Linked DNA regions of Homo sapiens: regions 1, 2, 3 and 4 are each linked to region 5. Evidence: fine-mapped expression QTL. A gene starts in region 5. Each other region holds a variant in brackets. All regions are shown on one strand. Distances are from middle to middle.

Region 1 (6,521 bases), 36 kb after region 5:
GCCTTCTCAGATTCCCCCTTCTCCCAGTTTGGCTTGTTCTCCCACAACAATGCTCTGATGCACTATCTTATTTTACCTTCATGAATTTCTACAACATGCATCTGTCTCCTTCACTAAATTATAAGCTCCTTGAGGGCAGGACTGCTCTTCTTTTACTGTGTGTCCCTCCTTCGTTACTGAACAATCTTTATACATCTCTTGGGCAAACACATATATCTTAAATCTGATTGTTTACATTGCTCATGAGTATAATTGTTAAATATAATTGTGTGATAAATGTACCAGGAAGTGGATCCCCTGGTCTAATTGCCTTGCGAAGTATTCTTTCTTCTCTCTGGGGTGAAATAAGTCAATTATATTGAAAGTTAGAATTGTTAAAAAGTTTATAACTAGTAAGGGTGATTAGAAGCCCTAAATTCAGCAAATGTTCAGCAAAGTATTTGGTGTTTACTAGGTATCTAGTATCATGCTAGTGATGAACTAAATAGTCACTCTCAGCACCCTCATGGGGACTATAGTCTAGTGAGGAAAATGGTCAATTCATATGCGAATTAGCAAATAGATTCACAGATAGACATTGTATAAGTGCTATAAAGAAATTAAACAGTTCCAGTGATTTGAGAGGCTGATGTGAGAGGATCACTTGAGGCCAGACGTTCAAGGCCACCTGGGCAACATAACAAGACTCCATCTGTACAAAAACTACAAAAATTAGCAGGCATGGTGGCGTGTGCCTGTAATCCTAGCTACTCTAGCTACTTGAGAGGCTGTGACAGGAGGATTGCTTGATCCCAGGAGTTCGAGGCTACAGTGAGCTATGAACCACTGCACTCCAGCCTGGGAAACAAAGTGAGACTCTGTCTCGAAGGAAGGAAGAAAGGAAGGAAGGAAGGAAGGAAGGAAGGAAGGAAAGAAAGAAGGAAGGGATTCTAGAAAAGAAGGTTTAGAGAAAATGTGGGTTAGAAAGTCATTTCTGCTGATGAGCTTGATTTAAGACAAATTGAGCTATCCTCATTTATGGAGATGCATGAAAAAGCCACTGGTTGGCAAAGGAAACAACATTTGCCCTGAGCATAAATGAGAGAGAAACTGATACTAGAGCCCTGTCTACATCCACTTAACAATTGCTCTTCTGAGATCACAAGGGTGATAGAGCCTATGTAGATCTCCCTGGCTCATTGAACCTTAACCAAGGGCTTCTGTTAGGCTTTGAATGCACACCAGCGACATAGAACTGAAGATGCAGTATCTTAAGCAGGGCTCACATTTGTTTTATTTTAGGCTTCCCTGATAAGTTGTGTGTGCGTGTATATGTGTTGCAGGGTGGGGGATAGGGTTGGAGGGCATTATGGAGGCAAGAAGAATAAGCTTTCTTGCCTGTGCGTGAAGAGTTTCACCAGACGATTTCAGCTTTCTCCTGTGACCTGGGAAAGCTGTGATGTGGAGCATGGCCAGTTTATACTTAAAAATGTCCACACAGTTCTGGTTGGTTCTGCCATGCCAGAATCAAAGGTTGGACCCGGAAACAAATGCCTTTGGCTGCTTGGTAACCAGCACTATCACAAGACAGTTGTGTTGATTGAGCCTAAGGTGGAAGTCTGTGTGAGCTATGAGAGGTGGTAAGATATGACTGCAAAAGCCAGGGCTTTGTCAAATCATACACTCTTGGGATTAGTCATCTTGTCTGACCATCAGACTCAGTGATAAGTTTTTGTATCTTGCAAGTTTTCAATTTGGCAAGAAGTTTCCTGATAATGCTTGGATATCTGCATCTCTTCTTCCTTCATCCAGCATTGATGGTTAGTAGCTTCTTCTAACCATTCTAACATGGATCTCATCTTGTATTTAATAATTGACAGATGGGTCCTCTCCCATCTTATATGGAGGATCAAAATGATTCTAGCAACTTAGTTCCTTTCCTCAAAAATATTGACACTCACCTTTGCCACACACGTCTGCGAATTATGAGTTATTGTTGTAAGGGACTAAACTGTCTAATCTTAGAGTTCGCCTTGGCCATATTTAGAATGTACAGTTCATAGGCAGCTGAGCAGAAAACCAGAAAAAGGGGGCTGAGAATTAGGTGAGAAACTGAGGAAATGAGTGAAATTAGTGATTCTCCACCCAGTCAGGAATTTTTTTTTGAAAAACATTCCTTCGACTCCTGTGAGATACAGCAGGGAATGAGCTTATTGGAAGAGATGAGGGAATGAGAGTGTGAGGAGGAGCTTGAATCCTTCCAGAGATCCCATTAGAAATAAGGCAAGGATGGGGGAGCCAGGGCAGCCTTTGGAAATGGGGAGCAGCAGGAATAATGGGGAAAGCAGCCCCCAGAGAGTGTCAGGGCCAGCCTGGAACCAGCCTCTGAAGGGGTGACCAGTCTTGGAGGGTTACTGGTCAAAGAGGAACATCTAAACTACTGCCAGGGCAACGACATGAAAGAAAAGGGTTCCAGGGTGTCGGGAGATTGATGGGGTTCAGGAAGGCTTGGGACTCAGCAGGGCCTGGGAGGTGAACCAGGAGTTGGGCAGAAGGCAGGCAGAGAAAAGGTGTGCCATGACTCAAGCCTGGCACTTTCAAAAGAGGGCCTGCCCCAGGCACTCATCCTGGGTTCACAGGGCACAGGGCGGCAGGCACTTAGAGATACCAGACCCTGGTGCCCATCAATGGCTTTACATGGCCCACCTTGGGCTAGGTCTTCCTGGAGCTGAGCATGTGAATTGAGCACACCATAATAATCTCTGAGTGTAGTTTCCAGTTTCAACAAAAGCAGAGAGTTAAGTACTTAAGAGTTCAAAAAGGAAAAGAAATTAGGCCGGCACCATGGCTCATGCCTGTAATCCCAGCACTTTGGGAGGCCGAAGCAGATGGATCACAAGGTCAGGAGATCGAGACCATCCTGGCTAACATGGTGAAACCCCTTCTCTACTAAAATACAAAAAAATTAGCCAGGGGTGGTGGTGGGCACCTGTACTCCCAGCTACTCAGGAGGCTGAGGCAGGAGAATGGCGTGAACCCGGAAGGCGGAGCTTGCAGTGAGCTGAGATTGCGCCACTGCACTCCAGGCTGGGCAAAAGCCAGACTCCGTCTCAAAAAAAAAAAAAAAAAAGAGAAATTAAGAAAAGGGTTCAGAACCCTCTCTGGGATACATTAAATTTGGGGAATTAAATTTTTAGTGCAGTTTTATTTTTCTCTTACATTGCAATCTGATGAACTGCTTTTCAAACATTTATTGGCTTTAGAGAACTTGAGTAGGCCTGTTTTAATTACTTCTCCAAGTCCTCTTCTAGTATTCTAATTAACTGCTTTTCAATACCCTGATAATTGGTCATAGAGATACAAACAATACAGTTGAAAAACAAGGACCAATTGTCTAGGGGAATCCACAGCTCCGAAGGAGAGCAGGGATGGAGCAGTGAAGAAATGTCACTTTTTCTCTTTTTTCATAGGAAAGGGACTTCTGTGTTGCTGTGACCCTGTGATGTGCTGCAGAACATTTAGGCTTCAGAGTCAAACAGCCTGGGTCTCCAATTTCAGGGCTGTCATTTGTTAGTTGAGTGAACCCAGAAAGTTGCTTAACTTTTCCGAGCTTCATTTCTTCAACTAATATTTGGAATAAAAGTACCCTTGTCCTGGATTTCTTGGGAGGATT[A/G]TAAGTATCATATAAGAAATTTCCATCTTAGTGCCAGGAACTGAAGAGGCACTCAGGACCTGGTGACAAAAGTTATCAATACATTATGCTACAATAGATGTGCCCGTTATTGGTGAAAAGGCATAAACCTAGAGGTACCTGGGGCTGAAGACAGAGTAAGGGTTATCTTGGACAGATTGGCCTGGTTAATGTCTCAGTAGCTTTGATTTAAGAAAGGTCTTCTCTGAACGGCTTTCCCTTTGGTGGTGTGGTGTTTTCCATCCATAGATGTTGGTTACTTCTACAGATGAAATGCCCATTAGAAACATGCCCAACGTGTCCTAAAATTATTTTCCATTCTTGGTCCTCCCTAGATTTTTTGTTGGCGTGGCAGCTGAACTTGTTGGCAGATTATATTGGGCTCCAAGACAAAGGTTGACAATTTCTCCACGTCTCTGTTTGGGTGTAAAGTGGAGACACAATTTTTAGAACTTCTGGGAGAGTCTTCTCTCACTGTCAGCCTAGACTGTGGAGGCCTGAAAGTATGGTGTCTGTCTCAGGGGGCAATGGGTTACTTGAAGGATATATTTTATCCACAGCCTTTTTTGTCTTGTTCATTTCAGAATTTTGCCTACAAGTATATTTCACCTACAGTGAATAAAGATTAATGGTTGATTGAAGTCATCTGGATAACATATTGGAAAACTTCTTGACAGGAATAGTTTAAATTAGAAAGCAGAAATAAACTTTTGACTTTAAGGAAATATTTCATGTCTGTCAACATAAAGCAACTTGGCACTATTAATCTATATCCACAAATACTTTCATGTCATATGACCACTTTTTTATTGGACACCACCTTCTGGAAAAATCTAAAATATGTAAAACACTAAATTCACAAAAGTGATTGTCCTAGAGTTATTTATAACAATAAGTTAGAAACATAACATCATTGAAAATTTGATTAAATCACTTTGGAGACATCCACTTGATGAGATGTTATACGGTCGTATAAAAGTGCACGGAAACAGGTCAGGCATGCTGGCTTGCATCTGCAGTCCCAGCTACTTGGGAGGTTGAGGCAGGAGGATGACTTGAGGCCAGGAGCTTGAGACCAGCCTAAGCACTATAGTAAGGTTCCCTCTCTTAAAAAAAAAAAAAAGCCGGGCACAGTAGCTCACCCCTCTAATCCCAGCACTTTGGGAGGCCAAGGTGGGCAGATCACTTGAGGTCAGGAGTTCGAGACTAGCCTGGCCAACATGGTGAAACCCCGTCTCTACTAAAAATACAAAAATTAGCTGAGCATGGTTGCAGGTGCCTGTAATCCCAGCTGCTTGGGAGGTTGATGCAGGAAAATTGCTTGAACCCAGGAGGTGGAGGTTGCAGTGAGCCAACTTATGCCACTGCACTCCAGCCTGGGTGACAGAGCCAGACTCCATCTCAAAAAAAAAAAAAAAAAAGTTCAGAAACTCCAAGGCTAAGTACTTTGGTATTATACATTACTAGCAAAAAACATGGTTTGAAAATTGAGGTGCAATATTATCACTATCTAACAATCTAACACAGATGCATAGAAAGATATTAGCAGAAAATACACTAATATTTTAAAAAGTGGAAAAATTCTGTTCTAATTTTTCTTTTTCCTTTCCTTCCTTCCTTCCTTCCTTCCTTCCTTCCTTCCTTCCTTCCTTCCTTCCTTCCTTCTTTCTTTCTTTCTTTTTTTTTTTTGACAGAGTCTCAGTCTGTTGCCCAGGTTGGAGTACAGTGGTATCTTGTACCACTTGGCTCATTATAACCTCTGCCTCCTGGGTTCAAGTGATTCTCTTGCCTCAGCATCCTGAGTAGCTGGGACTACAGGAGTGTGTTACCACACCTGGCTAATTTTTGTATTTTTAGTACAGACGGGATTTCACCATGTTGGCCATGCTCATCTTGAGCTCCTAACCTCAGGTGATCCACCCACCTCGGCCTCCCAAAGTGCCTGGATTATAGACATGAGCCACCGTGCCTGGCCTAAGAGTCCAGAAATGCCTAATTTTTCTTTAGTGCCTTTTAGTTGCCTCTTTTTTTATTAATATAAAAAATACCAGAAACACTGAGAAAATAAAAAGAAATAAAACCCTAGAAGTTACTAGGAAGAAAAAAAAAAAGTGAATGGCACGGAAGATGAGCAAGCAGATAGTGAAATGCCTGAAGTGGACATGGTGAGGGAGGGAGGAAACTATGATACTGGGTGAAGCACAGAGTGAATCTTGTGAAATGGTGATGTGAAAAGCAGCCTCCTTTAGTGATGTCCTATTCTTGCTCTATCACATTTTAGTGCTTCATGGGCCATAAGGAGGCTTGGAGGCAAGGAAGTTACCAGCATTGTTGGATACCACGTTTTGCCTGTCTGAAGGCCTCGTCCCTTACATGTCCGTATAGACATGTTTCTCTGTCTTTTGAGGTTGGGTGGATTAAGTAGGCCAGATGGTGTGTCAAAGGTGGCAACAAGGCTGTAGTAGCACTGGACACTCAGGAATGCCAGGAACACAGTCCCCCAGATTTAACAGTTTCTGAGAATAAAGCACAGTTCCTGGACAATGAAAGATTTCTTTGAAGCAAAATTTCTGGTAAGGAGATGGACATTCACAAAGATCAGAATTCATAGCACATTTCAATATCTGCAGACCTACAGATCTATGCAAGGCTCTCCCTGGGAATGGAAAGAACTCACTGACAGTTCCTTATTTTCGAGAACATGGGTGGCAGCAGGGGTGCCCTGGGTGCCTTGCAGAGCAGTGTGGCTCACTCTACACAGACACAAAGCCTCTGAGTTTCAGCTCCCACTTCCCTTGTAGGTAACCAGAACTTGCATCCTCACCTTTAGAGAGTCAGCAGCAATGGTGAA
Region 2 (6,521 bases), 43 kb after region 5:
TGAGTGATTAAAGTGACTGTTCCTATTTGTTTTCTGCAAACACAACAAACTATAATTCGTTCTAAGGAGAGCTCAAAGGCAGGAAGCCATTTGTCTGCTGACAACCTTTTCTCAGAACAACCTGTGATGCCTCTTCTAGCTGGGGCTGGACATCCATCCTGGCTCCCAACTGGTGTCCTTGAGGTGGGGCCTATGGGGCTGGACTTAAAGCATAGTTCTCTTGATTAGAAGCTGCCGTCTGTCCTGCTGGGCCTCTGGAGTCTGCCTTTAGTAGTGCTGTGTCACAGGAATAGTCCCAGACTGAGACACAGAACCTGGAATTTAGCCAGTGACAAGCCGTGCTAGCTTTCAAAGGTCGCTGTGTGGGCCTCGGTGTCTTCCTTAGTTAAATGGGTGCACTGGATGCTATAATCTCTAGGTTTCACTCTGACACTAAGAATTTGTGATTTTTTCTTCTGATTCCTGGTCCAAGGGTTCCTTCTCTCCTGGAGATGGAGACACCATGACCACTCTCATGGATCTTTTCTTCTTGGAAGAAGGGGTGAATATAGAGAATGACAAAGAAAAAGTGAGATGACAGTGATCAGTGTTATGAAGAACATGGCTTGGGTAGGGCTGGTTCCTTGTATTGAGTGGTCAAGAATCAAGAAGGTGAATCTGCAGTCCCATCTGTTCAAGGTGCAGCAGAAAGAAGTGAAGCCAGGGATGGAGCGGGGAGCAAGGAGGAATGAGCGGCCACATCAGAGGGACCAGGCCTGCGAACTTGAGCAGGGTGAGGCATCCAGGGCTCCTGGTTCCTGGCACGGCATCCTCCTAGTCCTCTAACCAGGGAGTTTCCTGCTCTGCCCTTGATATGAATGAATGAAGGCAGTCACCGGCAGCATTGATTCTCTGTCAATAATTCTCCCCCTCCTCCCTCATCCCCAAGGCTCAGCTCAGACGCAATTTCTTTCTCTCTTTTTTTGCACAATGGCTTTACTGAAATATAATTCACCAACTATAAAAGTCATTCTTTTTTCAAAGGACAACTTTATGGTTGGTGAACCACAATTCAGTGGTTTTTAGTGTAGTCACAGAGTGATAGACAAAATTTCTTCTTTTTGTAGGTGGAAGAAGGAACAAATTATAAATTGTGTGATTTCAGATGTCTGGACTTTTCATTCTTTTATTTTAAAATATGTCTATTTACCATGTTTGCTTTGTTTTTTTTTTTCCTTCCTGCCTCTGTTACTGCTATTACTGTGTTCCATTTTTCCTTCTCATAATTTGCAAGCCATACATGCAACTTTGGTTCACTAATTGATTGCTCTTAAGTTTTCATCAAGAAGTTATATTCATTTTTATTTCTCTACACTTAAACAGTACCTTTAACCTCCTCCCCACCAAAAAATACTGAGATATTCACATACAATTTCTCTCTTTTATTTCCCTCACTGCCACCATGTGGAAACCAATGGGTGTTTTAATTTGGTATGAACATGAGCATTTTAGGTTTAAAATGTGTTTCACTGCATTTTGACTGTAGGAAGTGAGATCAAAGGACAGAGAGCGGGGAGGAGGGATCACATCCTGTAAGGCCTTTCAGACCATTTCCAAATCTTGATTTGATTCTGAGAAAGGTGAGAAGCCATTGGAGGATTGAGATAAGAAGAATGACATCTTCTAATTTACATTCTGAAAGATTACTCTGGTTGCTGAGTTGGGAATAGGGGAGTTAGGAGTAAAAAATGGGAGAATTCATGGGCTTGCTGTAATAATCCCATTAAGAGTTAATGTGGCTGAATCCCAGTTGTTGCAATTTAGGCAATGAAGAGTTGACCAACTCTATGTTTATTTTATGTAATTTTTCATAATTTTTAAATTTAGAAATAATTTTACACAAAACATTTACAATGTTAGAAGAATGATAAAGAGCTCCAATATAACCTTCACCCAGATTCCCCAATTGTAATCTTTTCCACATTGGTTTTTCTCTTTTTGTATATCCATATTGTAATTTTTTGGATTGATTTGATAATAAATAGAAAGCATGCTGCCTTTATCCTTATAGTATGTGGTGTATATTATATAAGAACAGGATATTCTCTTATACAACCACATACAATGGTCAAGATCAGGAAAATAACATTGATACAATTCTATTATTTAATCTGCAGACTGTGTTAATATTTGGCCAATTATACCAGTAATATCCTTTATAGAAAAAATCTGGCCCATGGACTCTATGTGGACTAATATGAGAGACAGGGGATAGGAGTTGCTGAAGGAGTGGAGGTGAATTATGGGAGAAAAAGAGGAATTAGGGATAATTGTAAGATTTTTCACGTATGCAAATAGAAAATGGAGTTCGTATTACTAGTTAAACTGCGAGGACTTTGCAAGGAAGAAGTTTTTGTGTATGTCTGGGGCACAGTTCAGCCTTGGATATACTAAGTTTGAGATGTTTATTATACATCGAAGTGGATATGCTAATTTGTTCTTTGTGATTTGAAATAACATCTTTATGTGTCTAAATCTGAGTCTTTTCTAGTAGTTTAGCTCAGTGCTGGGTGGGACCTTTCAACATAAACATTTTATCTTTTCTATGTGTAGAAAATGTCCTTTAATTATTTATCTGAGCATTTCATTCTCTTTTGCTGTCTCCAGATGATGTTGGAACTTCTATTAATAGTTTTGTTCTTGGGGTTTTTTAGCTTTTCTTTTAAATCTTCCATCTCTTGACCTTTTTTGCTTCTATCTGTGGGAGTATTCTCAACCTTCTTACAAGCTCATTGATTGTGTGGTTTGGTACATTTTAATTAAAATAACAACTCTGAGTCTTATTTCACACCATTCTCTTCTCTCTGAGGACATTTTAAAGTTACTTTTTTCCACTTTGCCCTCTTAGCAAACCAACCCATCTGTTAGTTCTTTTGTCTGGGAAATTTGGTATCCATCTAATGTGTCATTAGCTCTCCTAAAATATCCAGTGACTGTTCTTTGTCTTTTTACTGTTGAATGTGGATGAAGTTACCTGAAGCATGTACTTTTCTTTTCCAAGCCCAGACTCTTCAATTTTTGTTTAATTTGGGGGCAAGCTCTCCTAGGTGGGTGTCATCTTGCTCCAATCCTTATAATATTTAAACTTGAATAACCCTTTGCCAACTATCCAATCTGTTGCCAAAACAAGCTTTCAAAATTGAAATATTAAGATGTCATTTAGTATTCTAAAATTCCCTGCATCCCTCATAATTTTCAGAATAAAATTGAAAATCCTTAGAGTGGCAACATGCCGTAAATATGGGAATCCTCATGTACAGATTCTCACCCACGTTCTCCTAATATGTCAAATGTTCCAGGTACATCAAACTATTGGTAATTCCCCGAATGTGCATCCAAGCCTTTGCCCAGAATCTTCTCTTTCCCTGGAGTGCTTTATTTCCTCCTCTCTACATCTAGAACTTCAATGCACCCTTCAAGATCCAGTAACTGCTACATATCTGTACCCAAGCATCTTTTACTTTATTTTGATGCCTTCATCCTCAAGTACCTCTTAAATAATTACTGCTCTTTCTGAATTCTTGCAGCATTTTTCACGTACCCATAGGTGTTTCTGTAAATAATTGATGTGCCTCTTTCTCTCCTACCAAACAGGAGATTTAAAAGCGGTGATGTGTTTTATTCATTTCAGAATCTTTGCTACCTACTGTACAGTAGA[CAGTT/C]AGAGTGATATCACTTGTTTAATAAATTAAGTGAGAAATCCCAAAGTAGGTTATACTTGTTTGTCTGTTTTAAAATGGTGCAGGGAGGGGTTCTGGTGACTAAGGTCTACACGCTAATGAGCATTTGGATTATTTAATGTTATTTTTCAGGGTTCTATAAATTGTGTAGGACTCTCATTTTGTAGGCTGGTCTCTGATGTTGGCTCTACCATAGGTTTCTTATAAAACAGCCACAGAAACCACTTCCATATCTCACTTTTGACATTGATGTAGTCCTCAGGCCATGGACAATGACCACTGAGACCCAAGCAAGGTTGTGGGCAAGGCTTTGGGAAGGGGGTTGATAAGATACAAGGGAATAGCCACCAGCCAGGCCTCAGGAAGACCTGAGGAGCTCTCTTGTGTGTGGGATGAGATCAGACCAGAATCACAAGAGAATCATGCAGGCAGGATGGGAGAATCCTGGTGCACCAGGATAGGGCAGAGGCTTGTTTAGAGCTACAAATACCAGCAAGGCCTGGCCTGGTATGTCAGGTCAGCTAATATGTCAGTTCCCACAGCTCCCATAGACAATGGGATGCCAGGGAAAGTTTTTAAAAAGAGAAGTGAAATCATTGATGATGCAATTTGGACTTCATTCTAGTTGTTTAGCTGTACATTTGGGTCCTAGAGAAACAAGAAGCAAGCTGGAGGTATGAAAGAGAACATTCCAAGAATGACAGGTAAGTCTGAGTCACAGCTCGAGGCTGAAGGAAGGGGGTTAGAGAGGAGGTGTCCCTTGAAATAGAAGCTGAGGCCAGCTTGCAAAGGGCTTACATGTCATGGTAGGAACTCAGAGTTTTTTCTTTTCTCTAACAGTAACCAAAGAAGGATTTTAAGCAGAGACATGACAGAGGGCAGGGGAAAATCAGAGTTTGAGGCCAGGCTTCATGATGACCTTCCAAGGTCAATCACAGAGGTAAAGAGGGGATCCTCATGTGGAACAAGGAGGTCCACAGCCAGCCAGAGAGGCAGCCCTGTCCCCTGAGAGAGCTGGCTCTGGGTTTGCAGTTTATTTCTGGGATCCTGATGTCAGTTGTTGGTCTAGATCCAAATGTGGCCATATCCAAAAAATGTTTAATCCAGTCAGGGCACTTTTTCACCATTATTTCACCCATTCAGTTAACAACTCATGACCACTATTTAAAAATTATATGCTAGTTTTGAAAGAAATTCAAAGTTAAAAACAAGTCCACAAATGACTAAAATAATTAAAACAGAGAATAAGACAACAAAGGTAGGACTGAAAGGCACCTGTAAAGCTTTTTGAGAAAGGAGCTGAGAATGTCCCGGGGGCCTGAAGGGCTTGAAAGAAAATGCAGTCTGTGTTTACACCTCAAAGATGTGCAAGACTGTGTGAGTGGGGGTAATATTTTGGGAAGAGAAAGCGCAATGAAGATATATAGGTGAAATATCTAAGTAGCATCAACAAATAACTGTTGTTAATGTTGTTTAAAAAACAATTCCCTGGCTTCTTGTATTTGGAATGGATTGTCTCCGTGGAAGCAGAAACTACCTCTCTCTTACCTTCTTTCAGGTTTTCCTGGGATCAGCTGCACTCCTTAGCAAAAGTATATTGGAGAATCAACTGAGAAAGTAACTGAGACATTTCAATCATTTCTAGGTGTAAAGAAAGACCAGATCCCAGGAAAATATTACGGTCAGTTCAATGCCTAAGTATAACACCAGCATCACTGGCTGGGACCCTCAGAACCTACTCTCCTATTTTCCCTTCATCTTCTTCTCTTCTTTCTTTTTCTTATTCCTTTTCTTTGTTTCCCCCCTTCTTTCTCTTCTCTCTTTTCCTCCCTCACTTTCTTGATCTCTCGCTCTCTTTCATGAATTCACTGAATCATTGCAGAAGTACTTGACACATACCATGTTCCAAATTCTGAGCTACGGCACATGCTATATTTTTCTACAAAATAAAGTGTGAGGTGGATCTCTAAATAATAATAACAAGTGTATCTCAAACAGTCTATCCTGGGCACCTTGTAAGCTTCAGTTGTTTTCTCTTCAAAGTGCCTGTGTCCCAAAGCTCAGGACAAATTTCAAAACCTGAACCTGAATATTAAGAAATCTAAACATATATCATCTAAAGCTGGCATCCAGGAAAACAGAGCTTTTCGTTTGATCAGAGACTGCATATTTCTTACCTGCAAGTGTTTGTTTTAACCACACTTGGCAGGTTCTGTATATAACACGCGTCAAAGCCATCAGTTGCACTTGTTTTTGTGACTGCAGGTGCTGGCTTGCTTGTTCCAGGGTCCCAGGGCCCGGCCATGGCCATGGTGTTTGTCTCTCAGGCTTGTCTGTCTCATACCTGGCAGGCTCACTGCTTCACAGCTCACTGTGTCTCTCAGACATTCTCTTGGCTTTCCCACAGTCTCAGGGACTGTTCTAAATAGCAAGCTAATATTCTGAAGTGAGGTATTGGAAGCATTTCTGAGAAGCATTTATTATTTTTGTATGTGCTCAATTTTTTAGCAATGAAGACATTTCCTTTCAAGGTTGTTAAGCTTTGAACTTTCCATTTTGTGAAAAGGCTCGAAATTTCCTTCATTCTTTGTGGGCATCCAACTCTAACAGACACATAAATTAATAGACTAGGAAATATTTAACGGTCTAAGTTCAAACAAATATGTTTACTTTGGCTGAATTGATGTTGCTATTAATTGCTATTGAAATAAACCACTGTACAAAGAAATATGCCCTGGAGGATAAATGTGACACTGCTAAAATTAAAACTCAAATGAGAATTATCTGCAGATTTTAATGTTT
Region 3 (6,521 bases), 39 kb before region 5:
AGCAGACTGGCCATGATGAGGCACAGCAGTTGTGCTGAGTTGTGGGGAATTCCTCCCAGTCTCCAGTGCTGGCCCGTTAGAATGGCCTACTCCAACTGCAGGTATAGCGGCTACCCCTCCCACTGGGAACTCAGTCTGTCTCAGGTTGCTGTCTCAGTCTTTCCAGACTGCTGCCACTGGCTGGCTGGAATTCTAAGCCAGTGGGTCTTAATTTGTGAGGTGCTGTGGGAGTGGGGCCCACAGAACAACACCGCTTGGCTTCCTGGATTCAGCCTCCTTCCTAGGGGAATGCACGGGATCTCTCGCCTTGCCTGAATTCTTGTGGCCAGAGTATGCAAAACTCCCAGGTTTCCCTGCGTGCCTGAGCAAGCAAGCAAGTGAGTGAGCAGCTGCTCAGCTGAGACTCTGCACAGCTCTGTGCTTTGGATCCAAGGCCCTTGTGATGTGGGCTCAAGAGGGGATCTCTTGATCCATGAGTTGCAAAGATCCATAGGGAAAGAGTGGTTTCCTGGGCAGGGTTGCATAATCACTCACTGCCTCCCTTGGCTGGGGGCATGGGCTTCCCTTGTTCCATGGGACTCCTGGGTGTGCTGTCACCCCACCTGCTTTTCCTCACTCTCTGTGGGTCAAGCCATCTGCCTAGTCAGTCCCAATGTGAGAACCTGGATACCTCAGGTTGAAGGTGCAGAATTCACTGGCCATTTTGTGAGAGCTGGGACTACAACTGCTTCTAATGGGCCATCTTTGCCCCTCCTCCAAATTTGGTTTTCTAAGAATTAAGTTTCTTTTGTCAAGAAGTATCACAAAATTGAAAAGCAAAGAACACATATGAAAAGCAAAGAACACATATAAAATATGACAATATAAAAATATATTTGTCATACTTATGACAGCATTTTATATATGTAAATATGTGTGCATCTATCTAGCTAGGTAGTACTAATACATGTCAACCTAAAATTAATATGAAAAATAGGAAGCTTTGGTGAAAAATTTGTCAAAGAAAATGAATAAGGAACTCACAAAATTGCTAGTTCTGATCAGTGAACATTAAAGAATGCTAAACCTTATTAGTAAAAGAAATTCAAATTGAAAGTAAAATCTTTTGCTTATCAGTTGTTAAGAATTAAAATTATTAAAACACCCAGTTTTGGCAACAGTGTGTTAAAAGACATTTTTTCATGGAAGATGCATGTGGTGGCACACAGTTTCTGGAAGGCTGTTTGGCAATATGTCAACATTAATATATCCTTTGACTCAGCATTTCTACCTTAAGGGTTTACTCGGAAAATAGCTAAACACACAAAGATGTGCACATCATAAGTATAAGAATATACACTGCAGTTTTTTATAATTGTAGCAAATGTGATAATAAATTACATTTTTCAATTTAGAAAATTGTAAGATATGGGGCAAAAAATTATGCCACATCACTGCAATATTGCAATGCTGTGTACATTGTAATTATGCAGCCATTTTAAAAGATGAGCTAGATCAATACCTCTTGTCTTGGAAAGATGCTGTACTATATTATTAAATGTAAAAATAGGTTATAGACTAATACATTTAAAAATTACTCAATTTTTGTAAATATGTCTCTCTATATACATTTGTATATAGAAGCACAGAAAATATTCAGGAGCAAAGACACCAGCCTGCTACCAGTGGATATCTCTGGGTAATGTGATTACAGTGAGACTTTCACTATTTACTTTATTCATTTATGTATCTATTTGAATTGTTTTTTCAATGTATATGTATAACTTTAATTTTCGACAGAGTATAAAATACAGAAAGGTATAGAGAACAAATGACTTTATTTATAACTAGAATTTGAGGAGTCTGTCTCCAGGTTAAAATCTTACATATATTTTAGGCCTAACCATGGGCAAATGCAAGGCTTAGCCTGGAGCTTTATGGGAGGAAATGGCTTTTCCTACAGACTTGGTGCACAGCCAGCGCATTGCAGTTCTCTGCAGGGAGTTGCAGTCAAGAATTCATCCCCTCTCCCCACCACCACCAGCCATGCTCACCTGCATATCTAATTCCTCACCCTGCTGCTGCCATCCAGAGGCCTCTTGCTCAGCAGCCTTGACTGAAGCACTTTTCCTCATTTTGACTTAGTACTTTCTTCCTTAAAGCCCTTCTCCTCTTCTCCCAGGTCCATGGGTCCATGAAGAGACAAAGGCCTTTTGTTTGGGGCTTTTCAGCAGTGAGATGACTCCCCCTCATTCTTGAACCTCACCCAGTTCCATTCTGTGGAGGAAAAATGAAACACTGGGGGAGGTGGAGCCCCTTTGCACCTCTTGCTTGCATTGTTGTGTAAGTGAATAGGAAGCTTGATTGTTGCTTTCAGTTTGTCTTGTTGACTGAATTTTCCACCTTGACACCTGATTGCTCTACAGAGTTAACGGTTAACATTTTCTTAGATTTTTTTAAATAAAGGAAGAAAACATAAAATACCTTAGATAGAGTTGAAGTCTTATTTATTTTTTCCAGTTCTTTTCTCTCCAGAGTTAACCACAATTAATTTGATATGTGCCATTTCTGAACACATGCACACACACATACAGAATGCATAATTTTAAAACAATATACATATACACACATTTGTGTATTAGAACAGCGTTGTTTTATCATTCTGAGTACCTACTCAGGAAAGGGTAAGAGGCTAATTCTGTTTCTTCTCAATATATACATATACATATACATATACATATACATATACATATACATATACATATACATAATTTTTAACAGTATTTTTATTCAGAAAATGAAGACATTTATATTAATAAACTATTAGGTGAAGCAACTTTGTTCTTCCAATGAGGGTATCATAATGTATAATTCATACGCTGGACTGCTCAAGGGGGTGCTAAAAATGTCCAATTTGTAAGTTTAATCCATTAGATAGTATATCAACACAGCTAAATTCACAATAGACTAAACGATTGATGCAGTGTTTTGATCAGAACAGTTAGGTCCTTAAAGGGCTTTTGTGATCTCATGCTTTCCAGCCATCAATGCTGAATTTCTTTAAGGTCTCAAACATTCCACCATCTTTGGTAGTTCTCTTGCTATATACATTCTGTTGCCTTGCCTACAATGCTTTCTTCCATACACCTTTTATCTGGAAAACTTCTACTTTTGCCCTAAAATTTTAGTCCCAGTATTTTACTATAATTATCTAAATAACATCTTAAATAAAGACTTTGAGAAGGGAAATATTTAATTTAATTTTTATATACATGAAGTTTACCCGATAACCAGAAAACATGAGTGCAACTTTACATTTGCAGCATGGTTCTGAAATTAAACCTTAGCAAGAAAGACTGAGAAGCAATAGAATTAGCCTCTTACCCTTTCCTGAGTAGATACTAAGGATGGTAGAGAAAGATGTTCTAGGAAATCTACATTGACTGCTTAATACATTTTGCAGTAACTCCATGGGGCAGCTAATACCTCATTAAACAGATTGAGAAAGTGAAACTTAAAACTATTAAGGACAGATATCGGTGTGATGATGCAGTATGAAGTCAGCATTTCAACCACCTTTTCTAGAAAACCAACAAAAAGCAACATGGAGATAT[TA/T]AAAAAAAAAAAAACAGAAATGTAAACTCTTAAAAAAAAAAAGGAGACGTGAAATGCCAAACCACAAAATAGGTGGAAAAAGGACCCAGCAAAGTGCAAATTAGGAGGGAAAGGGGAAAGCAGAATCCTCTCAGGAGCCACACAGGGACAGATGGATTCTAGAGCCTGTAAAGCCAAAGGTGTGCACGGACTCTCAGGCTGATGATGGAAGCCTGGGTTTCAGAAGCCAGAGAGGCAGAAATGAAGCCGACGTAGAGAAGCTGTGGTTACTAGAAATAGTCATCCATGTGGAGGAGTTACGCAGAAACTGTGGCTTGGTGGACAACTGCACAGCTGCCTAGCTTCATTTTCTGGGAAGAAGCAAAGGCCAAATATTGAATACAGAAGTCCTCAAGTCACGAGAAATGTTTTCTAAAACAAGGCCTGGTACTTCCCATAGTCCCTGTTTCCTGAAAATAGCTGATTCTGAAAAGATGCCAAGTCAAATCAACCAAATAGATGTCTGAAACAAAACAGGAATCAGAATAATACCTGTATAATAATGCTACAAGAAAAGAAGTACAGAGAAAGAGAAAGGAAAAGCAAATAGCAAATAAAGAACGGTTACCTGAAAAATTTTGCCATGGAGAAGGTCTAACGTTATGACCTGTTATATAGCTACAAATTTAAATATATTTAGAAAGAAATTCCATATATATACACACATGTATATACACACACATATACACACATATATACACACATGCATGTATACACACATGTGTATATATAAATATATGTGTATACATATATGTGTATATATACATACACGTGTGTATATATACACATATATGTGTATATATGCTGAAGTCAGTGATCAGAGATGTTGAGAGAAAAGGAGATGAAGTGACGTTTTCTGGTGGAACTCAGAAAAATGTAGAAGACTAAAATTAAAATATAAATAAAAGCATTTGGAAACAACTCTGGGGAGAAAATATACTGTTGAATGAAAAAACACAGAACATAAAAGACAGGAACAAGAAAGCCCAGCAAAATGAAATAGGAATAAAGAGTTAAAAAGGATTAGAGAGAAAGGATTGATATAGAACAGGGGTTGACAGTAGTGATATTTTCAGATTTGAAGGCCATATGTTCTCTGTCATAATAACTCAATCCTATTATTGCAGTATGAAAATAGTCATAAACAATAGCTTGTATTCCAGTAAAATTTATTTACAAAGACAGGTGGTATGCTGAATTTGGCCAATGAGACATACCTTGCTGACACCTGAAACAGAGGATAGGCAAAAGAGATTTAATATCTTTTAAAATTGGAGTCTTAGAAGAAGAAATGGAGGTATACAGATATTCTACAATATGATTCAAGGTAATATTCCAAAATATAGAAGGTAACTTGAATCTATGCTTGATAAGGCATATAATGATCTAGGAAAAATAGAGATGTGTCAAAATGGAGAATGATTTCAGTAGACCTATTAGGTTTCCAAGGAAAAAAATCTTTAGGTGAGCCAGACTAAAAGGATCTACTAACTTATAATTAAACAAACAAACAAGCAAGTCGGGTTGTCTCAGATACAACACAACCTTCTAAATCGGTCAAAATATCCTCAGGGAAAAAGTCCTTATGGAAAGAAAGTGAGAAAATATTTTTTTAAAGCCAAGTCAAACTGCCATGCCAATGTGAAGTGGAGAAAGATGTGGTTAAAAACATGCAAATGTCCAGGGAATGTTGTTCCTATAAATATTATCCCTGTGTCTTCTTGAAGACACTACTTGAGATTGTCAACGAATTAAGAGATAAATGGAAACAGTATGGTTAAAGACATGTAAATGTTATAAACTCTGACAATATTAATATGATGTTACTAATAAGAATTAGCAGGTGTTCTAGGCCGGGTGTGGTGGCTCACGCCTGTAATCCCAGCACTTTGGGAGGCCGAGGCAGGCGGATCACGAGGTCAGGAGATCGAGACCATCCTGGCTAACACGGTGAAACCCCGTCTTTACTAAAAATACAAAAAATTAGCCAGGCGTCGTGGCGGGCGCCTGTAGTCCCAGCTACTTGGGAGGCTGAGGCAGGAAAACGGCGTGAACCCAGGAGGCGGAGCTTGCAGTGAGCCGAGATCGCACCACTGCACTCCAGCCTGGGCGAAAGAGCGAGACTCCATCTCAAAAAAAAAAAAAAAAAAAAAAAAAAAAAAGCATTGGTAGGTGCTCAAAATTTCTTGATGGTCTTATCTATCTTTTCATTCCCAGGAACCAAAAGACATCATTTTAAATAAATAAACCAAGTAGTAGAGGAATATGTATATTTAACAACACAAAACACATAATGAGAAGGCAAAAACCAAACTGTTGTGACAGAGGAGATAGGTAAGGAGAAAGGGGGTACTTTCTCAATTAGTCATTGCTCAGAGTGGGGAATTATCAAAATCAGACCAACAAAAGTTTCCTGATATTATATTATTATGAAATAGAAGATTCAGACTATTACTGATATTATAAAAAGCCACAAAGTAACCATTAGAAGAAAAATACAGGCTTTCCAATTATCAGAAGAAGCACATACTCTCAAACAAAACAAAGAGCCCAATAGTCTCAGATTTAAAAACAGAATTATAAAAGCAGAAAGTATGTCACAAAGGAGAGCTAAATCCTAACATAACTATCATACTGATAAATGCAAATTATATTTACATATACATGCTTTAAAAGAAAGAAATTGTTGTATAGGATCACCAAGCAAAAATCAACTCTGTATGGTATATTTCAGACATTTTAACACAAAGTGATTTATAAAGTTGAAAATAAAATATGAAAAATGATAGTAAATGCAAACTAAGTATAAAATCAGAAATTCCTTACTGCTTGGAAATAAAAAAATTTTCTTAACTAACTCATGGTATAGAAGAAATTAAAATGAGATG
Region 4 (6,521 bases), 140 kb after region 5:
AAACCCCAAATATCTCTCGAGTCAGTCTCTTTTGCTCCTTACTCACAGTCTCTGCCTTAGTTTAGGCCCTTGGCCGAGCTCCTCTGGGTTGCACCAACAGGCCCATATCTCCTTATCTCTTGTTTCACTTCCCACCCACATTTACTACAATTGCCACAGTGATGCCACAGTGGTTTTTCTAGACTTGAAACCTTTTCCTGTCATTCATCTATCATAAGTCTTCCCACTTAAAACTTTGAGAAGCTTCATACTGTTTTTGTATAAGGCCCAAATTTATTATCAGGCTTATTGCACTCCCTATGCTGCAGCCAAGCTTGCCTTTCCAGGCTTGTCATGCCCTCACATGAATTCCTCACATCAGGTAAAGCATCAAATCCACAGGCACCTCCATACATCTGGCTCTCCCATCCCTGTGACTACACTTACTTCCTGCTGCACCTTGAAGTCCCTTCCCCCAAAATCCCTTTATCTCCATCTTCCTCCCTCTATGCTCCATGCTCAGCTCCACCTTATTGTGTTCTAGTCTTACCTCTAGTCCTTTATGGACAGTGGCGGGAGTGATTAATTACTCCTATGCATCTGTTGCAAGAACTCATATGCCAGGATTTCAGGATGCTCCTTTTCTATCTCCAGACTGATTATGAGACTCCTCTTAACCAACTCCCCTGTCATCTTACCTGTGCCTCTATTGCAGTGACTGTCATTTGGCAAGCTATGACATAGTACCAGACAGGGAAATCATAAAGAGAGAAAACTAAATTATACTTCTCTCTGTGTCCTCATGCTCTAGAATAATGCCTTGCTGTTCAATAAATATTTGCCAGGGAATAAATGAATGAAGAAATAAGCTGAGCAATTTCCTAACATTTTTCCCTTTAGAAAACAGAAAAAAAGGTTGAAATCTGAACTCATACCTGAACCAATCCCAGTTGACCATTTTCTACTAGTGACATTAGTGTTGCCATTGAAATAGTATAAACATAAAATGAAAGTTTGATAAAGTCACCTCTGATAAAAATACATAATATATAACATGTATAACATCACAGAATATATATTATATACATGTGTATTATAAGAGCTGTCTTTTTTATCTTATATATGTATATACATATCTTACATATACATGTATGTGTGTATATACATGTGTGTGTATATCTATCTATAGATACACACATGCACACATATATACGATAAGAAAGGAGCTTAACAGGCAGTGATATGTAGATTTCTCTCCAATGAAGCCTGAAATTATTTTGCGTGAACAACTACAAATGAGATGTGTTACTTTTACTGCGGACTGTTTACATGAGCATAAACTGGATGCTTTAATCCTTTGTTATTTTTTCTTGCATTTCATACAAATTTTTAAATAGTTGTGATTACAGATTGACTGGATAAAGTCACGGCCAATGGATATGGATTTTTAAAATGGTAACATTTTTGCACCACAGGGATCCTCAAAGATGCTTGTAATAGAAATAATTTGCATAAAGACGCTAGAAAAGTTATTGAAAATATAAGCTATTTAAATACATAAAATGGAGAAAAACAATATATGGAAAGGCTGTATTTTTTCTTTCGGTCATGCTAGAGGAAGCGCCCCTCCTCTCATCTGACGTATTTTCTTCACCTGCACCTCCCATCTTCTATTTCTTCAACTTCTACTCTCCTGACTGTTAAAAATCAGCATTTAAATATAGTATTATAGTCAAACTTCTTCCTCCTTGTTTAAAAAAGAAAAACGAGCCCTCCAGCACTCACATTTTTTGGGCAACTGTCTCTTCTCTGTTTCCATTTCTTCACCCTTACGCTTCTGGAAATAGTTGCTGATTCTGTCTCCACCTCCTGTCTTTATAGTCTCTCAAGGGACTTTCCCAGACCACGCTACTGAAGACACTCTTATGATCACCACTGGCATCTTTGTTGCTCAGTCCACGTGAGTGACATTTTATTTGGCCAGATCTTGTTTTATTTGGCCACTCTGTAACACTTGGCAATAGTATTGCTGCCTCAGCAGCATCTCATTCTTTGATTTTTATGACATCACTTCTTGGTTCTTCTCCTGCCTTTTTGGCTGTTCCTCCTCATTTTCCTTCATCAGCTTTACTTTCATGACCTGTTCCTGAAAGTTGATGTTCCTAGCGTATCCTCCTGGACCCTCACTTTCTCAAACTACACAAATTTCTTGGCCATCTCCTCTGCTTCTATTCCCCTAATGTGCTGATTATCAACACATCTATATCTCCAGCCCAGGTATTTCCTAAGTATCTTTCATATCCAGTAGTCTCCAATGTGTTGTGTACGCCTTGCCTGGGGTGTGCAATATAAACCTATGAGGCTACACAAAGAAAAATACATGTATATTTTTGTTGATTTTCTTATCTGAAATATGAGAAAAGATAGTGCTAATTTATTAATGGTTATCATATGCATCATCAGTAGTGTCCTCAATGGCTTTTCGTCCTCCTGTTTCCAGTTCGCACGGACACACTTTGTCTCTGGTTTTTCAACCACCACACATATGCAAAGGTACCAGGAAGCTCAAGGTTTGTTGAGTGTCTCCTACAAGGAGCTGGTCACATAGGAACATCCCAGCTATTGGTCAGCCTTGACCATTAAGCTCCCTCTCCCTCCTTATCCCTGGGCTCCAGCAAAACCAGGTGGTATAGGTCTAAATCCAGTTATTATTCCTGAGCAATGCTGATAAACTGGTATGTCCACTCCAAAACAACTCGCAAACCAATGGTTACAGAATATTATTTACTGGTTATCTCATGGCAAAGTTCATTTTTATTTTGTAAAAATAAAATGTTTTAAATTTGAGGACACGTGGCTGTCTAAATTTTGCTATCTAAGAGGTATATTTGAAAAAATTATCATCATTATCTATTCCCCCAAGATTAAAGTGATGTTTTGAAACAGTGAAAAAATTACTGCTTTTTGAAATAACTCATGGTGAGGAGGTGGAAATGTATGAAAACCAATATTTGAAATTTTTCTATAATTAACATGGCTTAATAGTGAAAATGAGCATGACTTATAAACCCGCTCACAATTACACCCTTAAAATACCTTAGCATCACAAATTTTCTATTGTGTTAAAAAATTTCCCCAAAAGTTACATTTTTAAGTCATTTGTCAAATGCAAACCCCTCCCATTTATTTGGTAGAAAAAGCAATTTAGATTTTTTAGGATGTTGAAAAGTTACAGAGTAATTGTAACAAAAGTCTTTTCATAATTTTTGGAAGATACTGAAAGATAAATATCTTTTGTTTTAAATGGCATTTTCTTGTGAGAAAGTATTTTCAGCATTGAAATAAATTTAAAACTTAGAAGCAGGCATTTGAATCACTCCATCACACAATATTAAATCAAGATTTCAAAAACAATGAAATCATATTTCAATTACATTTCTCACTAAATATTAATAACATTAATATTTGTTTAAGCATTTAAATATTAATAACATTAATATTTGGAGAAAGCCATGAAGTTCTGAACTAGTACGTAATAAATAAGACGCAACAAGTAAAAAATAGCATATATTTATATATTTAATCAGATCATAATCTGAGTTAACGTTTTTGTTGTTTTTTAACTTTTTTTTTTTTTTTTTTTTTTGGTAGAATCAGGGTCTCACTATTTTTCCCAGGCTGGTCTTAAACTCCTGGCTCCTGGGCTCAAGTGACCCACCCACCTCAGCCTACCCAAAGTGCTGGGATTACAAGC[G/A]TGTGCTACCACACTCGACCCATTTTTGGTTTTGTTTAAGCATTATAACATGCAGAAGTGATGAGTAATAGGAAAAATATTTAATCTATTAAGACATAAAGATATCTAATTTGATGTGCAGGTTTAAATAGTTTTACTGGTGTAAATGTGTTGTCAGGTACCTCCTAATCCTCTTGTGGATCCATATACTTTCTTCTGTTTTTCCTTCAGTCTTGCAGCAGACCACCCATCTCACTTTGATTCCCCCAGTTTTTCTGTTTTTCCATCCTGTCCTCTCTCCTTCAACCCATTCTCCAGTCCCAGTCAGAGTAGGGTTTCTAAAATGTAAAAATGAGCAGTCACTTTGCTCAGTAGAAGGCTGCGGTGGTTTTGCTTGCCCTCAGGCTGTATACCCAGTTCTTCATACCTCTCCCAGGCTCCTCCAGATCTGCCTCCTGCTGACCTTGTACCCAGCTGCAGCGACACCGAGCTCCTCACAGCTTCCCAAAGTGGGCTGGCCCCTCTCACGACAGGGTCATCGCACAGGCTCCCTCTGTGGGGGAACACAACGGGAGTCATTTCAACACCACTTTCTTCAGGAAGCCTATTCTGATCCTTGGTACTCCAAGCAGCTGTTGTCAATGCCTACCCCAGGTGATACCATGCCATACTGATTTTATTTTCCTGGATACTTAATCACAGGTAAAGTCACTGAGGCCACACAACCCTGAGGAGAAAATGCTTGAGCAGGCAGGATTTTGATGATATTTTGTGGATGATACTCCATTCTCAAACTGCCTACATTCACACTTCTTTTCACCGAGAGAAAATTAAGCCACTATGCTTTTAAACCATTCTTACTTGGGTTTTGTGTAACATGCAGCAACATGGAATTATTACGGATACAATTGGTTCTGACTTGTATGGATACACTTATAGAAAAACGTGTGAGGATATATTGAACAGCAAAGTACTGATTTTTTTCTTATTTTGATTTGTCTCTGATGAACACATATTTCTTTATGTAAATGTATTAGAAGGAATTAATAAGAATATGTTGAGGAACAAATAAATTGCCAAATCCCAGTGGCGTAGCACACTGATGGTTGATTTGTCCGTCACACAAAGGCCCATGCAGGTTAACTAGGGCTAGCTCGAGCCAGTGACTCAAAGATCCAGGCTCCTTCTGTCTTGTGATTATTAAGGGTAGTAAAGAAAAGAGAATGTGGCGGTGGCAGACCCCCTGCTAGAAACTGAAGGTGCCATTTCTAGTCACAGGCCACTGGCTAGACTACATCACATGACCTTGCCTGTCAGGAACTAGCATTGCAGACTTACCAGCATGACCGAGAAGGAAATGAGAGCATATGTAGGGAAGCACGCATTGTCTCTACCAAAATGAAAATGGAAGTTTAAAAATGCAAGTACTCATGGGAAAGGTAACACACTGCACATCTTAGCCACTGTCTTCCCTGACTGCAATGGCAGAGGGTAGAAGGGGAGGGAAGAGGTGCGCATATATGGAGGCGCATGTAGATTCTTTACAATTTGTCTCAGGTGAGGAAGGGTTAATGTGTGTGCTCAGATGTGCCAGTGAGTAAAGAAAAGAGTATGTTTTCAAGCTTCGCACCAAATGTGAAAGTCACTTGTTTCTTTTTTCCCTTTTAATTCTAAATCTGAGAAAAAGCAGTGCTCCGCTTTGAATTTCAAATGTCTTCAACATTGAAGTCTGTTAATCAGGCTATTTTCTTATCAGCTCTGAGTCTCAAATGCTGCATCTATAAGAAGAGAAGTCCTTTCCAGTTCTAAGAGCAGTGACTGTGTGTGGCTTCAGGAATGATAATTACACATTCCAAAATGCATCCTGGATTAATTTCTTAATTCACATCTACCAGAGATGTGAGTACCCAATGCTTAAAGAACTATGGTTCCATGACTAACAAGAAGTGATTCACTGAGCCCAACAAGCAATCTAATCTAATTGCCTCTAAGTGTTGTTTAGTAGGGGTAACTTTGGCTATTTTAATGAAATGTGAATTTTTAGAAATTATAGACAACAAAACAAATGTGTGTTCAGCAATTCCTGCCTACAGGAGTTCACACTCACTTAAGGAAGGCAAGGCACGTGCAGTTGAAACAACTAGCGAAAAAACAATTCTAAATAAACTAGCGTTGTATACCGATATAATTAAGTGCTAAAGTGTGCAGTTCAATCAGATAATATAAGATTTGGAAAAGAAAGGTGATAAAGTATGCCCCCAGACAAAATGGACTCCCTGTGGCTAACTGAGGAGCTCAAAGTTAAAACAGAACTAGGTGTCCATAGCTGGGTGACAGAATGGTCACATGTTCTGCGCTCTCAGAAAGATGTTGTAAAAGTATCAAAGGACCTCCCATTCTACAATCAAGCTGAACCAGCTCCTGTTCTGTTGTTGGGCTACAAGATAAACTGCTGCAAAAAGCACAGCACCTGCCCACACCTCCCAGTGCCGCAAGCCCCAGGCCCCATTGGCCATTTGAAAGAAACATCTGACAGGGACTGCTGGTTTGGGGCTTGGGAAGCAACCAGAGATCACCTCCCCTAGCCAATTAAGGCTCAGCTGTTTGGGCCAATCAGAACTCAGCTCTGTCAGCCAGTCAAAACCAAACAAGACTCAACCCTTTGTTTGCATAAATAGACCTGGTTGGGAACCTGGGTGGGGACTTTTCCTATAAAACCCCAGGCATGCCATCCCTTCATTCTCTGGAATGGACCTTCATTTTACACAGCGGCCTGCATGTCTGCCTGATTTGCAAACAGTTCTCTGGA
Region 5 (6,521 bases):
CAGTTAAGTAACTTTAGTTGTTTTATTTTTCAGTTTCAGAATTTCTATTTTATTAAAAAAATTCTCTAGTGTAAATTTTCTATATTTTGTGTACTCTCTTCAAACATTGATTACAGCTATTTTAAAACCAATCAATTCTGAATGCCCTTGTGCATTTGTTTCTATTTTCTGTTTATTTTCATGGTCTGTTTTTCTAGACTTATCTTCAGACATGGCTTTTAATAGTTATTGAAATTTGGACATTGTGTTTAAAAAGTTTGAGAGTCAATTCATTGATCTGGTTAGTGTTATCGTCCTCCAGAGAGTATTTACTTTTGCTTGATGTGTGTGAGGAGGTCGTTATGACGATGGCAAATCTCCTATCTATTCAGTGATTGTCTACCTAATTCAGCAATTTAGGTGATTTGAAATTGGGCTCCCACTTTGTGATGGTACAATATTTTTAGCACATGCTGTCTCCTAGGGTGTAGCCCTTCAGGGGTCCTAACTGAAAATTTGAGGTAATTATAAGGGCACCACCTCCTTGGTGGTCTCTGTTTGCTTCTTAAACTAGATTTCCTTAACTTCTGAGCATCTTAGCCACTGTATTTCACCTGTTTCTTCACCTCTCAGTGTCCAGTTTCAAATCAGCAGTGCCTTGAGTAAAAAGTACTCAGGAGTTGAAAATCAGATTCACTGATTTGTACTTCCTGTCTTCTGGGGATTTTATTTCTTCAAGGTGTCATTGCCTGGGCAGCTTTCTGAAGCCTTCAAACTTATAGGTTTTGCATTCTGTTCATTTTTGTAAGCTGCTCTCAGCAGGAGGGTTTGTCAGCAACAATCTTCTCTACAACTAATAAAGCTTGAAATATCTCTAGCATGAGTTATTTTGAAGCAGATAGCATTTTAACTCATATGGCAGAAAGAACGCACATCTGCTGAAATTGAAGAGTTTCCTGATGCAGAGGCCTTCTCTTCAAACTAAGAAACAAAGTTGGAAGCACTTAGAACATTATGTTTGGAGTAAGAAATGTGAATACTGATGAAAACAGAACTGCAAAAATTTCGCCTAAAATAATGAGTGTTTTAGCACTGTAAAGAATACCAGGAATCACCCCAAATTACCAAAGTTATCATTCTACTTAGGGACCTTAAAATAGAAAGAACCCAGGGCCAGTATCATTTTGATGCCTTTTAAAATTTCTTTTTGAAATAGTGAAATGTCACAATGGATTTTAAAAATAGGGGAATGTTGAAAATGTTGATATTTAATAAATTAGTACTTTTTAATTGACCAATTTCTATATAATATTAACATGCTGTCTACATCAGGAGTTCTCAACCCCTGGGCCACAGACCAGCAGTGGTTCGTGGCCTGTTAGGAACTGGGCTGTACAGAAGGAGCGGAGCAGTGCACGAGTGGGCCAGCAAAGTTTCGTCTATATTTACAGCTGCTCCCCATCACTTGCATTACTGCCTGAGCTCCACCTCCTGTTAGATCAGCAGCGGCATTAGATTCTCATGGGAGCATGAACCTTATTGTTGAATTGTCCATGCTAGGGATCTAGGTTGCAGTGTTCCTTATGAGAATCTAATGTCTGATGATCTATCATTGTCTTCCATCACCCCCAAATGGGACCATCTAGTTGCAGAAAAACAACCTCAGGGCTTCCACTGATTCTACATTATGATGAGTTGTATAATTATTTCATTATATATTATCATGTAATAACAATTGAAATAAAGTGCGCAATAAATGTAATGTGCTTGAATCATCCAGAAAACATCCCCACCCCTGTCTGTGGAAAAATTGTCTTCCATGAAACCTTTCCCTGGTGCCAAAAAAGGTTGGGGACCACCGATTTACATAATTAGAAAGTTTATAAAATCCTAATTTATAGAGTGGTCATCAAATGGTAGGAAAGTTCAAGCAGTTTGAGGAACTGATGTTTTTTTTTCTCAATACTTGCAGTGCATCTCTATGACTGTATGGGCAGCTTCTTCTGGAGATAATGTTGACAGTCTAAAAAGTTAAGCTGTGACGATTTACTCCCCTCCCCTGCCCCTATAGCACACTCTGATTTTAAATATTTTCTCTCTTAATTCTAATTAAATGACATAATTATAGTGCCATATCCCAGTCAATGCCATTTATCAGTGACAGCTAATTAACACAATTATAAAAGTGGGAGCCCTAAGTTACCAGTGAGGTATAGAGCAACTCTGGAAATTTTCTCCTTACTGAAAGGAAATATTACACATATTCCTTCACCAGAAGAACAATACACAGTTTACCTTCCCTTTTTGTTTTTGATAATACCACTTTGTTCCCCATTCTCTACAAAATTTAGTTTGAAGAACATTTTAAAAACTTGATTCATCGTAGTCATCAATCCTTCATAAATATTTCTTGACAATTGGCCTCTCTGTAGTTTGCAACCTGGACTACTCATGTTTAAGAGCTTGGTTTTTCAAGACTATTGTGTTTCAAATGGTTTTGAGGTTTTATGGTCTGTTGACATTCTGAGGAACTTAGAACACATTCACTTCCTTTTGCTTGGTGAGCTGTCCAGAGCCTTTGCAAATGCATGCAGAGCATGGAAATGACCCAGCTGCCCTGCTGTTGAAACAGAATCCTATTTGGAAGGCAGACATGTGGCCCATCTCTGTAGCCATCACTGAGAAATCTGGATTTTCAAGGTAAGTGCAGATGACTTAGGTTTGGGGAGACATGAATGAAAGTGCTATAGAAATAAAGCACACTTAATTTGTTGGCATAGTCCTAATTCAGAATCTTCAAATGGTTCTGCTCTAAAAAGCAAGCTTATTCTCTGACCACAACTCCTCCTTTATAGAAAGAATTGTTCTATTCTTACTGCTTAGGATATGCTGCTCTGAAAGTAAAACCTAATATTTATGGGTAAATGTGAACAAAAATGATTTCAGAATCTCTCTGTCAAAAAACCAGCTAAACATATCATAGAATTTTTTAGAGCAGTTGGCACTATTGAATTTGTGTATAATTATTCAAATGCTTATCTTTTAAGTGATGTCTTAATTTCCTTTTGTTATGAAAATCCTTTAACTCTATTACTGCATTATTTTCAGATAGAGTTTGAAACTATTCAGGCAGCCCTAGTCAATAGAAGGAAACAATCTGTAAGCAATCAAGTACTTAGAAATTTCTAAAAGAAGTATATTCAAAATAACATGTGAAATAATGGTAATTATAATTCTTTCCATCCCACTTTTAAAGTACTACTTAACAGGAAGGATCTGAAAATAACTTCTTAAATAAGATAAATAAAAAGAACAACATCTGTTCAAATAATTTTACTTTAAGTAAAATACTTTCTATACCAGTATTTTCTACTTCCAAGAAGTAATATTTTTCAAATATGTGGAATGAAATATAATGCAAAGTTTTTAAACAATAAGTCAGTAATGCCTAACCTGAATATAGGCATTTAATTTTGTTTCTTTTACAAATTTGTTATATGACTTTTGATAGGTCACTTAATTCTCTGGACTTCAGCGTTCTACATAACTGCACAATTACTTATCTGAGAAATTACTTATTAAGTACTCCAGAATTACATGTCTTTGTTTTCTGTTTTATTGGGTTTAAATCAGTTAATTAGGATTTTAATCAGTCAATAGAAGTAATGGGAAGACCAATGGATGAGGAATCAGGTGGTGTGAATTCTAGTCCTCTGTTTTCTAGTAATTGGCTGCATAATTTGGGGGAATATTGTCTAAGGATTCCAGACCAGGGGTTGGCAAACTTTTTCTACAAAAGCCTTGATAGTAAATATTTTAGGCTTTGCAAGCCAAGAGGTAGAACTGAGGCTAATATATTGGTACTTACATAACCATTTAAAACTATAAAAACCATTCGTAGCTCACAGGCTGTATAAAAACAAGAAGTGAGCCAGCTTTGGCTTAGGTGACACAATTTTCCAACTATTCTTCTAGCAATGATTTTCAACAATTATAAAATGGAAGTTGTAGACTGGATAAGAGATGCTCAGCTAAGGGAGTTCCTGGATGGTCTTTAGATTGATACACCAATCCTCTGAAATTGCATGCAAAAATGTAAGTGTGTGTTTTTCTTTTCTTCCTTTTGTGCGTGTGTGTGTTTCTCTCCCTCCCTCCTTCCTTCCTGCCTGCCTGCCTGCCTGCCTGCCTGCCTTCCTGCCTTCTTCCCTCCCTCCCTCCCTCCATCTCTCTCTCTCTTTCTCTCTTTCTTTCTTCAGGGCCTTTCTCTCTGTTGCCCAGGCTGGAGTTTAGCGACTCAATCATGGCTCACTGACTGCAGCATCGACCTCCGGGGCTCAAGTGATCCTTTCATCTCAGCCTCCTCAGTAGCTGAGACTACAGGTACTTGCCACCACACCTGGCTAATTAATTAATTTTTTTTTTTAAATAGAGACAGGGTCTTGCTCATGTTGCCCAGGTTAGTCTCAAACTCCTGGGCACAAGTGATCCTCCTGCCTTGGCTTTTCAGAGTACTGGGATAACAAACATGAGCCACTGTGCCTGGCAGCACTTTTTTTTTTTTTTTTTTTTTTTTAAATAAGAAAAACACGGATTGATTTTCAAAGTGGTCCAAAATCCAATTGTAGTTAAGGACCACAGGTCTAGCTAATTTCTAAAAGTGCTTTCCAAATTTAAAATCAATGAGCCTGTGAAATGTTTACTGGTGTCTACTATGGGTAAGCCATTGTGCTAGCACTATAAGAGACGTAGCATGTTGTGACTAAAATAATGTGTTAAATATATTGTTAAATAATATGTTAAAAAATATATTTTTGGGACAGGGCCTCGCTCTGTCTCCAAGGCAGGAGTGCAGTGGCACAATCACAGCTCACTGAAGCCTTCACCTCCTGGAATCAAGTGGTCCTCTCACTTCAGCCTTCCGAATAGCTGGGAGTGCAGGTGTGAGCCACCCTGCCTGCCTTTTTTTTTTTTTTTTTTCTTTAGAGAGGGGGTCTCACTATGTTGCCAAGGCTGGTCTCAAATCCCTGGGCTCAAGCAGTCTTCCTGACTCAGACTCAGACTAAAAATATTTTAAAGAAGTTAGAATATGTGCAAGTCTGTGCTGTCTTTCAAAGTAATAACATTGAAAACAATTTTCAATTGATCAAAGATTTCTGAGACATTGCTTTGCAAAGTGTTTTCAAAGCTAGTTCATACGTTATACCAAAGTATTTTCCAAATTATGTTATTGTCCCATCTTATTTTGAATGACAATGTTATTATTCGTGACAGTCATAATCAAACTTAATCTAAGCATAGTCTGTTTCCTAAAAACATAATTTCCTTAAGGGCAGGAACTATGCCTTTGCTACCTTTATATTTTAGAACAGGGTTTGACCCATAATAAGTACCCAGCATCTTTGGAATGGTTATATGAGTGAATAAGTGAATGAAATGATGAAGGTATTATCATGGAGATTACGTACCATAGATAGTGAAGGCTTGGAACTCCAGATGGTCTAAAAGCAGTAGTTGCTAAGTCCAAAGATGGCTTCTCTTTTCAAAATTGGATGTAACTGTGATTTCAAAATAATTGGCCAACTCAATATTGCAGTTCCTGATGATTAAGTCACTTTTTAAAAAGAGTGAAATTTGTGGAATTTAATTAACATAGGAGAGAGAAATACTTTTTACAAGGTTGCTAGTAACCTACTCTCTGGGATGGCGTGAGTGGAGAGTGAAATTTTGTTAATGAAAAGCATTGCCATCAGCATCTGAGCCCCTCGTGTCCTGAGACTGGGTAGAAGATAGTATCAGCTGGAACATCATGCATAACTGGTAGCTTTTCTGGGAAATCCAAAAGTCAAGTCTGGTAGAATTTAGGGCACCACTCTGCTCCCTGATAAAGAAGTTCAGACTGAGCTCCACTGCCTGCCCAATTGATGATGTCAGTCGGAGCACTGTTTCCTGGGAATTTCCCACAGCTACCCAGGGCAGGGGAATAACTTGTGATCAATCAAATTGTAGCTCTGTTCTCACTCCAGGAACAATTCCACTAAAGGAAATCCAATCTATAATATCTAGTATATGATTCATTCACTTCTTAGGGAAATTTAAGATTTAAAATGTTGAGAAATGGTAATGAAAAACCTGAGTAGCTTTGTATATAGTTGGTGTCATGCCTGAGACATCCTTATTCAAAAAAGTGCCTCTCACCTCTACTCTTGTCATCCTCTCATCTCAGAAGCTGTTAGGAAATAGAAATATACTATTTGCTTTGGGATACAATTATACAGTGAGCCTGTGCAGTATCACTCTATATTAAATAGCACCATTTTCTTCACACATTTAGCAGTTCTACTGAGGACATATTCCCGGATCTCCTTAAGGATTGAGATAAGTCCCAAATATAATCCAAAGACCACATGCTTCATGAATGGGAGCTCGAATATGTCTTATGATCCAAGGTCTCACTTGGATGTGGCAGGAAGCTTAGTCCCCTCTCTGAGGATTTCTGAGACTCCCTGGGCAGTGCTTGCATGTTCTACAAATTCAAGACTGGT

Alleles and levels. Positions count from the first base shown, and alleles are read on the strand shown. Sizes are in standard deviations (SD) of each study's normalised expression. Not every link is listed here.
In carriers of allele T in region 3, the expression in monocytes after R848 of the gene that starts at base 2,542 in region 5 tends to be higher than with TA alone (small effect, 0.37 SD a copy in Quach 2016).

The links. PIP is the estimated chance that this variant, and not a neighbour inherited with it, causes the effect.
Region 1: its variant is the best candidate, but not a certain one, in a credible set for the expression of GPR141 in testis (GTEx, PIP 0.52).
Region 2: its variant is the best candidate, but not a certain one, in a credible set for the expression of GPR141 in whole blood (INTERVAL, PIP 0.76).
Region 3: its variant is the best candidate, but not a certain one, in a credible set for the expression of GPR141 in monocytes after R848 (Quach 2016, PIP 0.74).
Region 4: its variant is the best candidate, but not a certain one, in a credible set for the expression of GPR141 in whole blood (TOPMed, PIP 0.72).

The regions. Positions count from the first base shown.
Region 1 is chr7:37,717,648-37,724,168 of GRCh38, forward strand. All of the region lies in intron 2 of GPR141 (G protein-coupled receptor 141), which reads left to right. Among named protein-coding and RNA genes, the nearest start is that of GPR141, 37 kb to the left of the region's middle. RefSeq lists a silencer at 1,025-1,084 and an enhancer at 1,375-1,484. The variant A/G (reference allele first, on the strand shown) is at 3,653.
Region 2 is chr7:37,724,639-37,731,159 of GRCh38, forward strand. All of the region lies in intron 2 of GPR141 (G protein-coupled receptor 141), which reads left to right. Among named protein-coding and RNA genes, the nearest start is that of GPR141, 44 kb to the left of the region's middle. RefSeq lists a silencer at 4,399-4,508. The variant CAGTT/C (reference allele first, on the strand shown) is at 3,698.
Region 3 is chr7:37,641,981-37,648,501 of GRCh38, forward strand. No RefSeq gene overlaps it. Among named protein-coding and RNA genes, the nearest start is that of GPR141, 39 kb to the right of the region's middle. The variant TA/T (reference allele first, on the strand shown) is at 3,594.
Region 4 is chr7:37,825,107-37,831,627 of GRCh38, forward strand. No RefSeq gene overlaps it. Among named protein-coding and RNA genes, the nearest start is that of NME8, 20 kb to the right of the region's middle. The variant G/A (reference allele first, on the strand shown) is at 3,734.
Region 5 is chr7:37,681,225-37,687,745 of GRCh38, forward strand. GPR141 (G protein-coupled receptor 141) reads left to right here and starts at 2,542. Exons shown (of 3, transcript NM_001381946.1): 1 at 2,542-2,679; 2 at 4,236-4,359. RefSeq lists an enhancer at 545-604.